Linked DNA regions of Homo sapiens. The protein of the gene in region 3 purifies or fractionates together with the protein of the main gene of each other region. This does not show direct contact. Each region holds a gene or a part of one and is shown on either strand. Other genes may lie near its edges.

Region 1 (3,500 bases), on a different chromosome or scaffold from region 3:
GCCTGGGCGACAGAACAAGACTCTGTCTCAAAAAAAAATAAAAATAAAAAAAGGAAAGAAAAGAAAATATGGTACATATACACCATGGAACACTACACAGCCATAAAAAGAATAAAATCAAGTCCTTTGCAGCAATGGGGATGCTGCTGGAGACCATTATCCTAAGTGAATTAACACAGTAACAGAAAACCAAATACAGCATGTTCTCATTTTAAGTGGGAGCTTTAACATCAGGTACTCACAGATGTACAGATGGCAACAATAGTCACTGAGGACTACCAGCGCGGGCAATGTAGGGAAGGAAGCAAGGGCTGAAAAACTGTTGAGCACTATACCCACTTCCTGGGTAATGGGTACAACTGTACCCCAAACCGCAGCATCATGCTGTATACCCATGGAATAAACCTGCACATCTAAAATAAAAGTTGAAATTGTAAAAATAAAAAAGAATTAACTCTCCTACTCATTTTTCTTACAAGGTCTTACATCAAGTATCCCTTTATTTAACAAACTCTTAACCAGAGCTTACTATATGCTAGGCAATATCTTAAGCCCTTTACAAATTCATTCATTTAATATTCATATTAAATATATGACAACCTTAAAGAATAGGTGCTATTATTGTCCCCACTAAAAATGAGGAACTGAGGCACAAAGCATGTAAATAACTCGCCCAAAGTCATGCAGTTAGTAAGCAAAGCTTCGCTGACCCACTTACTATCTGGATCAAATTTTCTCATTATTAGTTCTTATAGCTCTCTTTTACAGCACTTACCACAGTTGAATATTAAATTTATTTCTGTGATTATTTAATATCTGTCTGCCATTGTAGAACGTGTCATGAGGTCTGACACTCAATTTTTGCTCAACACTGTATACTCAATGGTTAGCAAAATATGTCACATTAGACCAGGCGCAGTGGCTCACAGCTGTAATCTCGGCACTTTAAGAGGCCCAGGAGGGCAGATCACCTGAGGTCAGGAGTTCAAGACCAGCATGGCCAACATGGTGAAACCCCGTCTCTACTAAAAATACAAAAATTAGCCGGGCATAGTGGTGAGTGCCTGTAATCCCAGCTACTCAGGAGGCCGAGGCAGAAGAATCACTTGAGCCCAGGAGGCAGAGGTTGCAGTGAGCTGAGATCACACCACTCACTGCACTCCAGCCTGGGCAACTGAGCAAGATCTGCCTCAAAAAAAAAAAATGTGTCACAGTAGATGTTCAATTTTTTTAATTAAATTTTTATTTTGAGATAATTGTGGTTCCACATGTAGTTACAATAAATAATACAGAAAAAAATCCTGTATATCTTTTACCCAGTTTCCATTAATGGGAACATCTCGCAAAACTATAGTACAATATCACAATCAAGATAAGGACATTGATACAGTCAAGATACAGAATATTCCATCACCACAGGTATCTCTCATGTTGCCGTTTTATGGCCATCCCTCCTTAACCCCTAGCAACCCATAGTCTGTTTTCTACTTCAATAATTTTGCCAGTTCAAGAATGTTATATAAATGATATGATATGGGGATTAACTCTTTGTTCTCAGCACAATTCTCTGGAGATTCATCCAGGGTGTTACATGTGTCAATAGTTCCTTCCTTTTTATCAGAGTAGTCTATGATAACAGATATGCCACAGTTTGTTTAACCATTCACCCACTGAAGAACATCTGGCTTGTTTCTATGTTTTGGTGACTATGAATAAAGCTGCTACAAACATGCATGTACAGGTTTTTGAAAATGAATAGCCTTTATTTCTTTGGGCTAAATGTCAGAGTACAATAGTTGGGTCATACAGTAGTCACATATTTGTTTTTTAAAGAAACTGCCAAATTGTTTTCCAGAGTGGCTGTACCATTGTACATTTCTACCAACAATGTATGAGTGATCCAGTTTCTTGACCTCGTTGCCAGCATTTGGTGTTGTCACTATTTCTTATTTTAGCTATTCTGATAGATGTACGGTAGTATCTTGTTGCTTTAATCTGCATCTCCCTAATGGGTAATGATGCTGAACATTTTTTATGTGCTCATTTGCTATATGTGTAATCCTCTTCAGTGAAATGACTATGTCTTTTGTCCGTTTTCTAGCTGGACTGCTTTCATACTGTTGACTTTTAAGAGTTCTTTATATATTACAGATACTAGTTATTTGTCAGTTGTGTTGTCTGCAAATATTTTCTCCCCTCTCTAGTTTATCTTTTCATCTTTTTAACAGGGTCTATAACAGAGCAAAAATACTTAATTTTGATGAAGTTTAATTTATCAATTTTGCCTTTAAGGAGTATTCTTTTGGTGGCAAGTCAAAGAAACATATGCCTAACCCTACCTCCCCAAAATTTTCTTCTATTTTTCCTAAAATTTTATAGTTTAATATTTTTATATTTCAGTCTGTGATCCATTTTAATTTGTGCATGCACAGGGTATGAGACATAGGTTGAGGTTCCTTTATTGGGGGGTTGGGAATGGGACAGTGTATGGATGTCTAATTGCTCCAGTACCAACTGTTGAAAAAGTTATCTACCTCCGTTGAACTGTTTTCATGCTTTTGACAAAAACTAGGTATATTTATGTGGATCTATTTCAGAGTTCTCTGTTCTGTTCCACGGATCTGTGTCTTTATCTATGCCCATACCACACAGTCTTGATTACTGTAACTACATAATAAGTCTTGAAATTGAGTAGATTGATCTTTCACACCTTATTCTTCTTTTTCATTGCCTTTTCATGTAAATTTTAGAATAATCTTGTCCATATCTAAAAAAAATCTTGTTGGGTTAATTATATTGTATGAATAAATAACAAATGTATAAGAAATAAATGGTACATGTCTTCCTTGATGTTGTAAAAGAGCTAAAACTCAACAAGACCTAAACTAAATAAATATTTGCCCCAAAAGTCCTTGTCCTCCTACTTTTCCTATCTCAGTTTACAGGATCACCATTTATCTAGTATTCAAAGCTAGTTTTTGGAGTCATTTATTAATTTATTTGATAATCATTGACTGCACACTTAGCATGTACCAGGCACAAAGCCAGATGCTAGGGTAATGAATAAGATATGGTTTCTGTTCCTAAGGCAGTGAAGGTGACAGACATCAACAAGTAACAACAATATGGTATGATACACATCACAGGAGAGGTACATACAATGTATTTGATAAACCTGAGAAAAGTAAGCAAGCTGGCTGGCACACAGTCCGTAAGCACTTAATAGAGGGAATATTTTAGCAAAATATTGAAGAATTAGGATAAATTAATTGGGCTGTGAGGTAAAAAGTCAATACAGGCACACACACAAAAAAAGTATGCGCAACAGCATAAAAGCATCATAGTAAAACCTGCTTGGGTAGCTTATGTAAGAGGTAAAGGACCAGAGAGTAGCTACAGAGGCAGACATAGGCCAGATCATGAAGGGGAGGGGTTCATGTGTCACACTAAGAAACTTACATACTCATCTATACACAGGGGAAACCATGAAGAACTTTAGA
Region 2 (3,500 bases), on a different chromosome or scaffold from region 3:
CAGGTAGCACATCAGAAAGAACCTGCGGCACAGAGGGCGGTTGGCGAAGAGCAGCCTCCTCGGCAGCTGGGGACCTGATGTCAGGCTGGGCCTGGCCCAGAAACGGGGCGTGGCCCGGCCCTGCCCTGCATGGCTCAGCAAGGTCTTCTCAACCTCATTGCTGCCACCTCCATGGCCTGAGGCAATGAGACTACTGTGGAGGAGTCCTCGGAGCCAGATCGCAGAGGATGGGCAAGGGTTTGCTGTTGGAGGAGGTAGGAAGGGGAGTAACAGGGCAGAGCTGAAGAGGGTGGTGCAGGGGCAGCAGGAAGAGCTCAGTGCCTGGAGACTCTAGGCCACATTCAGGCCTCTGGCCTGAGTGACCAGCTGGATGAGAGGCTGCCATGCATGAAGGGGAGGATGGAAGATAAGCTGGACCATTTGAATGCAACCAGTCAGAGATACTTAAGAGTCACTGCGGTGGGCGTGGGAGTCCCACGCATGGGCAGGGCCAGCTGCATGAGCCCTCCAGGAAGGCACCCGAGGACGGGTGCGCAGGAAGGCAGGAGGACCCACACAGGGCATGCCAGGGGGCAGGGGCTCCCAGCAGGAGGCCCGAGATAAAGGCTGAGATGTAGCCTCTGATTTGGGCACAAGGGGGGTCACCACCCAAGATGGCTGTGGCAAAACAGTTTCAGGTGTGCTCTTGGGTGAGAGGAAGGGGTGTGGGGGGGTGGACAAGAGGGTGCTGGCTCCAGCAGGCCTGGCTGTAGCTGGGATGGAGCCTGCTCAGGGGTACAGGGCCCCTGTCAAGTCTGCAGGCTGAGTGGGCAGGGAAGAGGAGGCCTTTCATAACCGCACAAGCAAGAAGGAGCGTCAGCCACGGAGCAGGGTGGGCGAGGACCCCAGCCTGGACAGAGTCAACCAAACAAGCGCTGCCTCGGGGTCCCTGGGAGTCACCACATGCTGGCCACTCCCTGCAAGGCACTGGCACGCAGATTTGCCTGGCTGATTCCAGAATGTTAAAAGCAAATGACTTTGAAAATGGATGGGTTGGGCATGGTGGCTCACGCCTGTAATCCCAGCACTTTGGGAGGCCGAGCCAGGTGGATCATCTGACGTCAGGAGTTCGACACCAGCCTGGCCAAGATGGTAAAACGCCATCTCTACTAAAAATACAAAAAATTAGCTGGGCGTGGTGGTGCATTTCTGTAATCCCAGCTACTCAGGAGGCTGAGGCAGGAGAATTGCTTGAACCCAGGAGGCGGAGATTGCAGTGAGCCAAGATCATGCCATTGCACTCCAGCCTGGGTGAGAGAGTGAGACTCTGTCTCAAAAAAAAAAAACAAAAACCAAAAAACAAACTAACAGATGGAAGGGGCAGCAGTGGCTTCATGGAGGCATGAGGGACGCGGTGGTTGCCCTGTCCAGTGGGAAGGTCTGCCGGCCACCTGCTCTGGGGGCCTCAGGGAGGTGTGGACATATTGGTCACCTTATAGCTTTGGCATAGGTGCCAGGCTTGCTCCTAAATGCAGGGGTGGGCTGAGCCCTGTCAGGCCACATCTCCCCATGCAGCCTGCCACATCTCCCAGCTGGACCTCCAACACCAGACGCAGCCACGGGGAGGTGCTGGGGTTCAGGAAGCCTTTCCCCATCCCCCTGCCCTGCCCGGCCCCAGCTCACATGGATAAGATGGGGGCCACCATGTCGAGGGAGGCGATGAGGATGCCCAGCTCGGCGATGAGTGCCGTCAGGAGGAGTGCCCATGTGGGTTCACCATTCACCTTCCCGTGGCCAAACACCTGTGTGCACCAGGAAGGAAGCTGGGTCCTGTCACCCCCATTCCACACCTTGGGCCCCAGACCCCAGCCTGGCCTCCCTCACCCCCAGGGCCCGCCTTGGGGGCTCAGGCCGCCCCTGTGTCTATCCCTATGGGTGTCACCAGTCTCCCTGATTCCACCTCACCAGGCCTCTCTCCTTTGGATGAGCCCTAAACAGGCCATGAAGATTCTGGGTCCAGGCAGCTCCAGGCCCAGGTGAGTGCCAGGCCCAGGGCACTTCTCAGTAGCTCCTCATGGATGGCCGCCTGGCCCCGGGGGCCAATAAGGGCAGGACGTGCTGCATCTGTGTTCCCTATCTCTCTCCCCAGCCGGGCGAGGGCCTGGGAGCAGCCAGGCCATGGGGGAGTGCAGAGGGGCTCACCCGGAGGAAGGGGATGATGTTGTCCTTGGCAATGGCCTGCAATAGGCGTGGTGCCCCTGTGAGGCTCTGGAGGCCAGCGCCACACGTTGAAAAGAAGGAGCCGATGACGATGACCCAGGGTGAAGGCCAGGCCAGTGTGCCCACCACCAAGTTCCTGCTGACACCATCGCCATACCTGCAGGGGCCACCAGAGTGAGGGATGTCAGGGGTCCGGAAGGATGGCACAGACCACCAAAGGCAGCCAGCAGGCTTAGGACCACCCACGGGGTTGGGAGCTGGTGTGAGGGCAGGCCAAAGCCCAGCCGCTGCTAAAGAGGGGGGCCCAGCTCACTCACTTGTCCCGGAGAACCACACCCTCAATGCAGGCACCAAAGAGAACCACACTGCTGAAGTCTGCGGCGGCGTCAAGGAAAACTCGGCCTCTGCCACCCCACTGTCCCTGAATAGTACCACGTGCCCCCACCCCAGCCAGACTACCAGGACACCTACAGCTGGGAGTCTCGTGGTGTGTATGTGCATGTGTGCATGAGAAGGGGAGCTATATATGAGTGTGTGGGGTGTCTGTGCATGTGACCTGGCAACGTACACAGGCCAAGCGCTTCCCGTCCTCTGCCCCACCTGCCCCAGGCCTGGGAAAGGATACACACGAGGGAAGTTGTAATGATGGCCAGAATGGTCCCCACAGGGATAGACTTCTGGGCGTCACGAAGGTCCCCAGAGCGGTTTGAGCCAGCCATGATGCCTCCAAAAACAGATGAGACTCCCTCAGGGGCTCCCCGGGATTGGGGACAGGGCTGGGTGGGTAGGCAGGCAGGGCTCACCTGTTACAGAAGGGAAGAAGATGCCGACCAGCACGGTGAAGGATGTGGCGATGTCAGCGACCACGTACAGAGGCAGGCTCTCCTTCAGGCTCGGGGCATCTGCGGAGGGCAGCCCATGCTTCTCCACGATGTCACCCTTCTCCAGGTAGGCGCTCCACAGGTTTTCTGCAGGGGTAGCTGTGTCACCACCACAGCTGCCCCCCACTACCCCAGGTAGTTTGGGGCAGCCTAGCCAGAGGCGCAGATGCAGGGCAACTTTGGGGACTCAGGGAACAGCTTCAGCCCAATGACTGCAGCGTCAGCCACAGGGCTACCCTGACCACAGAGAAGGAGCTGCCCAGCTAGAAGTCGACAGACAAAGGTGGCTGAACCACCGTCACCCAGAGCCCGCCACTGCCCGCCTTCCACAGAGGCCTTTATGGATCCTGTGGGAACATCCCCAGGCAGTGTCAGGGGCTGGTGGCTGGGGAAGACAGGCTGCTGCAGGCCTTGGACGCT
Region 3 (4,170 bases):
GAGGATGGATTTTCACACTGGATTTATGGTCCCACGGGACTGGGCTTGCCTCCCAGCTCTGTACACTAGCAATTCTGACACTGGCCAAGTCACTTGACCTGCCTGTGCCCCAGTTCCCTCCTCTGAATGGCAGGACAGTAACACCACCCGACAGTGTTCTGGAGAGGACTGGGTGCAACGCTGTGTGCTGAGCCCCTGGCTGGCAGCGTTCTGAGAGGACTGGGTGCGATTCCGTGTGCTGAGCCCCTGGCTCATGTCAGACATGACAGTGCAGCTCTTTGCATTGAACAAATCGATCCCTCTGCTGAGTCATGACTTGCTCTCTGTTCCTGATAGTGCCCAGAGACCGGGGACTTTTCCTCCTCTTCTTATCTGGAAGTCTAGAAAGCAGAGCTGAGCCCTGTGAACCAAAATGTGGGCAGCCTTGTTTTGGACTCAGCATCACCAGAGGACACCCAGGCCCGACCCCGAAGTGGGGAGCTCAGCCTGGCTGGCCAAGACTGCGTGCCAGCAGGAGGCCAGTACGTGGCTCTTAGCCAAGGTGCCCCGCTGCCTCAGAGGCTCCATGGTCCTGCTGGCCACCTTCCATGACACTTTGATTTTAGACTTCTGACCTCCAACACTGTAAGAACAAATGTGTTGTTTTGAGGTTGACCAGCTAAGGCTGCTGTGGCATTTGGATCCATGTGTGTCCATGAGGGCTCTGGGCATGACTAGGAACATTTATCCTCACAGCAACCCCGGCCACTTTTACAGATGAGGAAACTGAGGCACAGAAAAGTTCAGTCACTTGCTCAAAGTTACACAACTGGTCAGCAACAGAGCTGGGATTTGAACCCCAGCACCCACGCTTCTAACCACCACACAGGCTTCCTCTCATGAGTAAGCTGAGAACATCCTTATTCCTGGCTCTCCCAGTGCTTCCTGGACCACACAGCACGTGGTTCCAGCTTCCCCCAGGCCCTCCAAAGAGGCTGGGCTAGATGAGGCCAGACAAGAAGTGGGAGTGAGGTTTCCAAGCCAGGCCCTCATGGCACTCAGCCCTCCTCAGCAGGACAGCGAACCGCGTGACCTTCCCCCACTGTCGGCATGTGGAGGAAGCGTGGCTCCGACTGCCAGATGGGTCACCAAGTGAGGCTTAATTGTCCCAACCCAGGGGAGCCCCCGTGGGGTAGAGGGGTACTCTGGACACCCATAGGGGCTGCACTGATCATCTTTCTTGTCTGGACTCCAAGGCCCTGTTTTAACTCTCTGATGTCCGTAGGATAATTTTCCTTCTGAATCCAAGGATTAGAAAGTAAAAACCAGTCACCAGAATAATAATATGTCAGAACCTGGAAGAAGCTCTGGGATCCCCTCTTTGACAGAAAACCAGAGACAGGGTGACATGCCCAAGGCAGCACCTGCTGACCCTAAGGCCCCCACCAGCGGCCTGTTCCAGCTTCCCCCAGCCCCCTCTGTGCAGGTCCTACCTCAGGGGCCTCCACAGGGTGGCTGAGGTGTCATTGGTGACAGCCAGGAGGAAACAGGCCTCCTTTCCCCATTCTTTCTCTCTGGAGTTTAGAAAGCAGAGCCGAGCTCTGCAGACCAGAACGTAGGCAGCCTCATTCTGGACTCAGTGTCACCAGGGGGCACTCAAGCCCGACCCTGGCCTCTGCTGAGGTGGGCCATGGCAGCTTCCCTCCCTCAGTACCCTGCCTCTGCCCACCCTCCCCACCCTGCCTCCCCACCCAGGAAGGACCCATCAGCCCACCCTCTCCAGCCCCTCGGGAAGCTCTTTGCCAAGGCGGGGTGAGATCCTATGACAGGAGCCGGCCCAGGACACAGTGACCCCTGAAGTCTCCTGGGCTCCTGGGGCTGCCACTCCCATCTGGAGGCATTTGGCAACTGGCCTCTGCCTCCCTGAGCCTCAGATTTTCCGTGTATGAAGGGGACTCATAAACCTCACAGGGTTTCAGCAAGGCACCTGCCGCCCTCTGACCCCACGCTGCAGGGACAGTCCTCACCCCCCTCTCACCTCTGAGACTGCCCCTCCACAGATGCCCTGAACATGCCCATGCCCAACCTTCAGAGCACAGACACCTCCTCGGGAGGTCTTCCCTGCTGCCCTCAGACACCCAATAACATGAAACACTCCCAAAGCACCTACAGTGTGTCAGGCACTGTTCAAACACACTAGATACACTACTTCCTTAATCCATATCCCAACCCTGGGAGTGGGGGGCTCAAGTATTATTCCCACTTCACAGATATGGAAACTGAGGCCCAGAGACCACCAGCCAGTAAATAGCTGGACCCAGGGAGGCCACCTTCACAGTAAGCACCCTTAACTACCATGCCGGGTAGCGTCCTTACTGTCCCAGAAGCGTGCTTGCTTCCTCTTTACATGAACCACCCCGCTCTACATGTCTTCCCCTGAGCACACAGGACAGGACAGGACAGGACAGCTCAGTCAACACTGTCAAAGCCATGACTCGTGGGAAGGAGCATCCCTCCAGGCATGAGTGAGCTCAGCACGGCACAGGTGTGCCAGGATGACCTCCTCTGATATTTCTGCCCTGCTTGTGTTCTCTTTGGGATGCCCCCACCCCCATCCCCTGCCACCCAGGAGTTGCTTCCTCAGAGCCCCAGAGCTGTGTCCCTCTGGCTGAGGCAGCCCTGTGCCCATAGCCCTGGAACTCACTGGACTCAGGTAGGGAGCCTGGGAACCGCTGAAGGCCATCTCTCCGCCGCCTCTGTGGCCACCGCTGCCTTTCACACCCACTAGGAAGTCCTTTGTAGAGGGAACGACTTAACAAAGAAATAGAAACCAAAGCAACTTGGCTGTTATTCAATGGGGAGGAGCCGGCAGCAAAAGGAAGTGGGTCCAGAGAGAGAAAGGTATGGTACTGGGTGGACTGGGGTGACACTCACAGAGGGAAGTAGGCACTCCCAGCCCCAGTGACCTTTCCCTCCTCCCTCTCCTGTGCTCAACCCAAGCCTGAAGCATATTTGGTTCATAGAGGTCTACAATGCTTGACCACACTGACATGACAGCAAGTTGCCAGATGACACTGCCCAGAAGTATGTGGCTGTGTGTCCTAAGCATGCTTGGCCACGGAGTCCAGAAAATAATGGGGCTGGGCATTGCCTGTGCACAGGGTGCTTGTGGGGAAGGGCGGCTTCAACCCATTTTACATACAGAGAAGCTGAGGCTCAGAGTCTAAGGGGCATGCCCCAGGTCACACAGCTAATTCGTGGCCGCCTGAACTTTATGAAGATTCTCAGACTCTTCAAAAAGTATTTCTCCTGTTTAAATTTATATTATTCATGTAAAAACATAATTATGTAGAGGGGAATATTTTGCAAGAAAAACACCATAATGAATATTTTTATTCTACAGTATGGGGTGCCCAGGAGCTTCTGATCCTCCCTCTCAATGAATCTCTCTTGATTCTCTTCTCCTTCTCTTCTCCATCCTTATTTTCTGCACTTTAGGATGAGGAGAGAAGTCTTGGACATGATAGAACATTTCAAGTGACATGGGGCTGGGAAGGAACATATGGCATGTGCAGGTCGTGGGGGAGGGAGCCATGAAATAAACTTACCTGAAGTCGACCAGGTCCCAGCGATGTGCTGGTGAGAAGGCCCAGAACTCAAGCTGGGTAGGGTAAGTGCTGGCAGGTAAGGGCTGTACGGGTGCGAGAGGATGGCAGGTGCCCCAGGGCCATACGTGAGTCTGCACCTCTCTTCCTTCCTGTGCTCCACCTAGATGCACTAGAATTTGCAGACTAATTCCTTTGAGATGCTCCAATAGACTGAGGCCATGTGTGCCATCTGCACTGTCCATCCCCATTATGTTCCTGGATCAAGTACCAGTTTAAGGAGTAGACAGTACAAGGGGAGCAGAAAGGAGAGAAAGGAAGGGAAATTCTTTGCGATCCTCTCGGACACCAGGGACAATTTCATCACGGCACATCATTTGTAGGCAATCACAAATTGATTGCGATACGCAACAACTGGAACTCTCATTCACAGCAGACTGGAGTGTAAAATAATCCAACTTAGAAAAATGGGCAGGGCGTGGTGGCTTATGCCTATAATACCAGCACTTTGAGAGGCTGAGGCAGGAGGATCACTTCAGCCCAGGAGCTTGAGACCAGCTCGGGAAAGGTTGGAAGACCCTGTCCC
Region 4 (3,500 bases), on a different chromosome or scaffold from region 3:
TCACAGTTCCACCTGGCCAGGGAGGCCCCACAATCATGGCAGAATGCAAAGGAGAAGTAAGGCACATCTTACATGGCAGTAGGCAAGAGAGAGCTTGTGCAGGGGAATCCCCATTTATAAAATCATCAAATATTGTGAGACTTATTCACTATCTGAGAACAGTATGGGGGAAACTGCCCTTATGATTCAATTATCTCCACCTAGCCCTGCCCTTGACATATGGGGATTATTACAATTCAACGTAAGATTTGGGTGGGAACACAGAGCCAAACCATATCATGGGGTTTCAGCATGTTGCTTAGGATGGTCTCGAACTCCTGGGCTCAAAAGATCTGCCCACCTCAGCCTCTCAGTGCTAGGATTACAGGCATGCACCACCACTCTCAGCCAAGTTCATACTTTTGAGTTCTTGCTACTTGCCCAGCACTATCCAGGCCCTATCCACATGTCATTCCACTAATGCAAGCCCACACCAAATCCTGCCAGCTCCACCTTCAAAACACATCCAGATATCTCCCACCCCCAGTGATTCCTTTCCTGCATTGCCCCTGCAGCCTAACCAACCTCCCTGCTCTTCCTTTTCTCTCCTCTACAGACTATTCATCCAGCAGCCAGAATAATTCTTTTAAACATCCAAGTCATCATAATTTCACTCCTGTTCAAAATCCTTCAAAACTTTCCAGTCACTGAAAGCAAAAAGGCCAAAATATTTAAAAGGCCCTAAAAACTTTATCTACAGGATCCAACCCTGACTACTTTTATAACTTCATTTTCTACCACTCTCCACCACAATGGTATCCTTGAAGTTTCTTAAACGCTTGAAGCCTATCTCAGGGTCCTGAGTAGTAGACCTGGAATATCACTCCCCCAGATAGCCTTGTGGCCTATCTCTCACTTCCTTAAGTGTATGATCAATTGTCACCCTATTAAAGAGACCCTCCCTGACCACACTATGTAATACTAACCAGCAGAGGGTAGCTGAATGAACTACCATATAGCCACCCTATGAGGGACTGTACAGCTGTGAAAAAGAATGAGGTGGATCTCTATGAAGTGATAGGGAATGATTTTCCAGATGTATGGTTAAGTGACAAAAATGAGATACAAAAAAATACATAGAGTGTTACCTTGTTTAAGAAGGGTAGTTAGAAAAAAAAAAAAGAATCCAAATAACTTTTTTTTGTTTTGTTTTGTTTTTTTGTTTTTTTTTTTTGAGACAGAGTCTCACTCCGTCACCCAGGCTGGAGTGCAGTGTTGTAATCTTGGCTCACTGCAGTCTCTGCCTCCTGGTTCAGGCCATTCTCCTGCCTCAGCCTCCTAGGTAGCTGGAATTACAGGCGTGTGCCACCATGCCCAGCTAATTTTTTGTTTTAGTAGAGACAGGGTTTCACTGCGTTAGCCAGGATGGTCTCAATCTCCTGACCTTGTGATCCGCCCGCCTTGGCCTCCCAAAGTGCTGGGATTACAGTCATGAGTCACTGCACCCGGCCAGAATCCAAGTAACTTTTGAATATAGTATTGCATATTCACTGGGATATACAGATATTTCTTATTATGGAGTTATATCTTGAAAAACTCATTGTAGAGTTGAAAAATCTTAAGTCGAACCATTGCTAAGTTGGAGACTGTAATGAAAAATAAAAGGAACTGTAAAGAAATCTTTAACTGTATTTAGTAAGTTTGTAGTTGGTAGTAGATTGGTATAGCAACTGTAAAATGATTTGGGGTTTAATGTAGATTAGGAAAATATACTGATGCTACTAAGAACAGAGTTCTCACTGTGGGAGTAAGGAGATGCAAATATGGAAGAGCAGAAGAGGCAGAAGAACTAAGCAGCAAGATTATTAGTGTTAGAAGTATCAGGGTGAACTCCTGACTTTGTAAAAACTCTATTTCTTAACTTTGAAAACTGACAAGGCTGAGAAGCAATGACTCTGGTACCTGTGGGCACACTTTGCACCCAGAACTTGATTTCTAAATACCATCTCTCACTAAAAGAAACCAGGGAACCTAATGATTCGAAGGCTGAGGCAGGAACACTACAAGATGAGTCCAGAACATCTTTCTGTGCCAGAAAGTAAGGAAGTGTTTAAAATCAAACAGGAACAAACAGAGCAAAAGGACTCTGAAGCTTGAAGGTGTTCCCACTTGTCAAATGTGGGGTTGCCGAGCATCAAAATGGATGACAGGAATGCCATATTTAAAAAAGAATCCATGAGTCCACATAACCTTCTAAAATAAAAGAAAAAAAGGGAGGATGTGTGTGCAAAAGCTATCCATTACTGAACAATGTAAACTAATAAATATATATATAGAGAGAAACAGAAGAGAAAATTGCTGGGTGGCTCATGCCTATAATCCCGACACTTTGGGAAACTGACTTGGGAGGATTGCTTGAGCCCAGGAGTTCAAGACCAGCCTGGGCAACATGGCAAAACCCCGTCTCTATAAAAAATACAAAAAAATTAGGTGGACGTGAAGGCATGTCCCTGTAGTCCCAGCTATTTGGAAACTGAGGTGGGAGGATCGCTTGAGTCTGGGAGATCAAGGCTGCAGTGAGCCATAATTGTGTCACTATACTCTAGCCTGGGCAACAGAGTGAGACTGTGTCTCAAAAGAAAAGAGAAAAGGCAATGAAACAAAGAAGGAAAGAAGGGAAGGGAAGGGAAGGGAAGGGAAGGGACAGGAAGGGAGGGGGAGGGGAGGGAAAGGGAGGGGAGGGGAGGGAGGGAGGGGAGGGGAGAGAGGAAGGATGGAAGGAAGGGAGGGAGGGAGAAGAAAGGGACAAGGGTGGGGGAAGAAAATTACCATTTGAAAATATTTTAGTGGCTGGATGTGGTGGTTCATGCCTGTAATCCCAACACTTCGGTAGGCCAAGGAGGGAGGATCACTTGAGCCCAGGAGTTTAAGACCAGTCTGGGCAACATAGGGAAACCCTGTTTCTACAAAAACTAAAAAAAAATTAGCCAAGCATGGTGGCATGCACCTGTAGTCCTGGCTACTCAGAAGGCTGAGGTGGCAGAATTGCTTGAGCCTCAGAGGTCGAGGCTGGAGTTAGCTGTGATAGCACCCCTGTACTCCAGCCTGGGTGACACAGTGAGACCCTGTCTCAAAAAATAAAATAAAATATTTTAGTGATAATGGATTCTGGGAAGAATCACCATAGGATACTAAAACCACTGAATGAACAATGGCTGGAGAACAGGATATTCACTCAACCTCAAAACATCACTTAACACATCATTTATTACTTACAAAGGTAAAATGGTGCCTCTACAATGGAGAAATCTGGTAAACTTCACTTTAACCAAATGTCAAAGTTAACATCTCCAATAATGTGACAAACAGACCACATCTTCCTGATGTGACACACTGAGAAGGACCCAACATAGCTATGAAGTATTCCTGCTACAAAGAGTTACAACCAGAATCTGATCATGAGGAAACAAGCAGGCAATCCACATCCAAAGGGACATTCGGTAAAGCAACTAGCCCAGACA

What was found. Proteins that work in one complex are often made in the same cells at the same time.
Region 1: the proteins of LGALS9 (region 3) and CLCN3 purify together in Homo sapiens (affinity purification with mass spectrometry; 4 studies listed by BioGRID and IntAct, with this or other methods). This does not show direct contact.
Region 2: the proteins of LGALS9 (region 3) and SLC12A4 purify together in Homo sapiens (affinity purification with mass spectrometry; 4 studies listed by BioGRID and IntAct, with this or other methods). This does not show direct contact.
Region 4: the proteins of LGALS9 (region 3) and CD58 purify together in Homo sapiens (affinity purification with mass spectrometry; 4 studies listed by BioGRID and IntAct, with this or other methods). This does not show direct contact.

Annotation. Positions count from the first base shown.
Region 1 is NC_000004.12:169,627,078-169,630,577, reverse strand, and holds part of CLCN3 (H(+)/Cl(-) exchange transporter 3), read right to left. Parts: intron 1-3,500.
Region 2 is NC_000016.10:67,948,138-67,951,637, forward strand, and holds part of SLC12A4 (solute carrier family 12 member 4), read right to left. Parts: intron 3,168-3,500; coding exon 3,003-3,167; intron 2,924-3,002; coding exon 2,825-2,923; intron 2,575-2,824; coding exon 2,517-2,574; intron 2,357-2,516; coding exon 2,182-2,356; intron 1,782-2,181; coding exon 1,663-1,781; intron 23-1,662; coding exon 1-22. UniProt on the Homo sapiens protein: Mediates electroneutral potassium-chloride cotransport when activated by cell swelling. May contribute to cell volume homeostasis in single cells. May be involved in the regulation of basolateral Cl(-) exit in NaCl absorbing epithelia.
Region 3 is NC_000017.11:27,629,818-27,633,987, reverse strand, and holds the start of LGALS9 (galectin-9), read right to left. Parts: upstream 2,801-4,170; 5' UTR 2,723-2,800; coding exon 2,684-2,722; intron 1-2,683. UniProt on the Homo sapiens protein: Binds galactosides. Has high affinity for the Forssman pentasaccharide. Ligand for HAVCR2/TIM3. Binding to HAVCR2 induces T-helper type 1 lymphocyte (Th1) death.
Region 4 is NC_000001.11:116,564,527-116,568,026, forward strand, and holds part of CD58 (lymphocyte function-associated antigen 3), read right to left. Parts: intron 1-3,500. UniProt on the Homo sapiens protein: Ligand of the T-lymphocyte CD2 glycoprotein.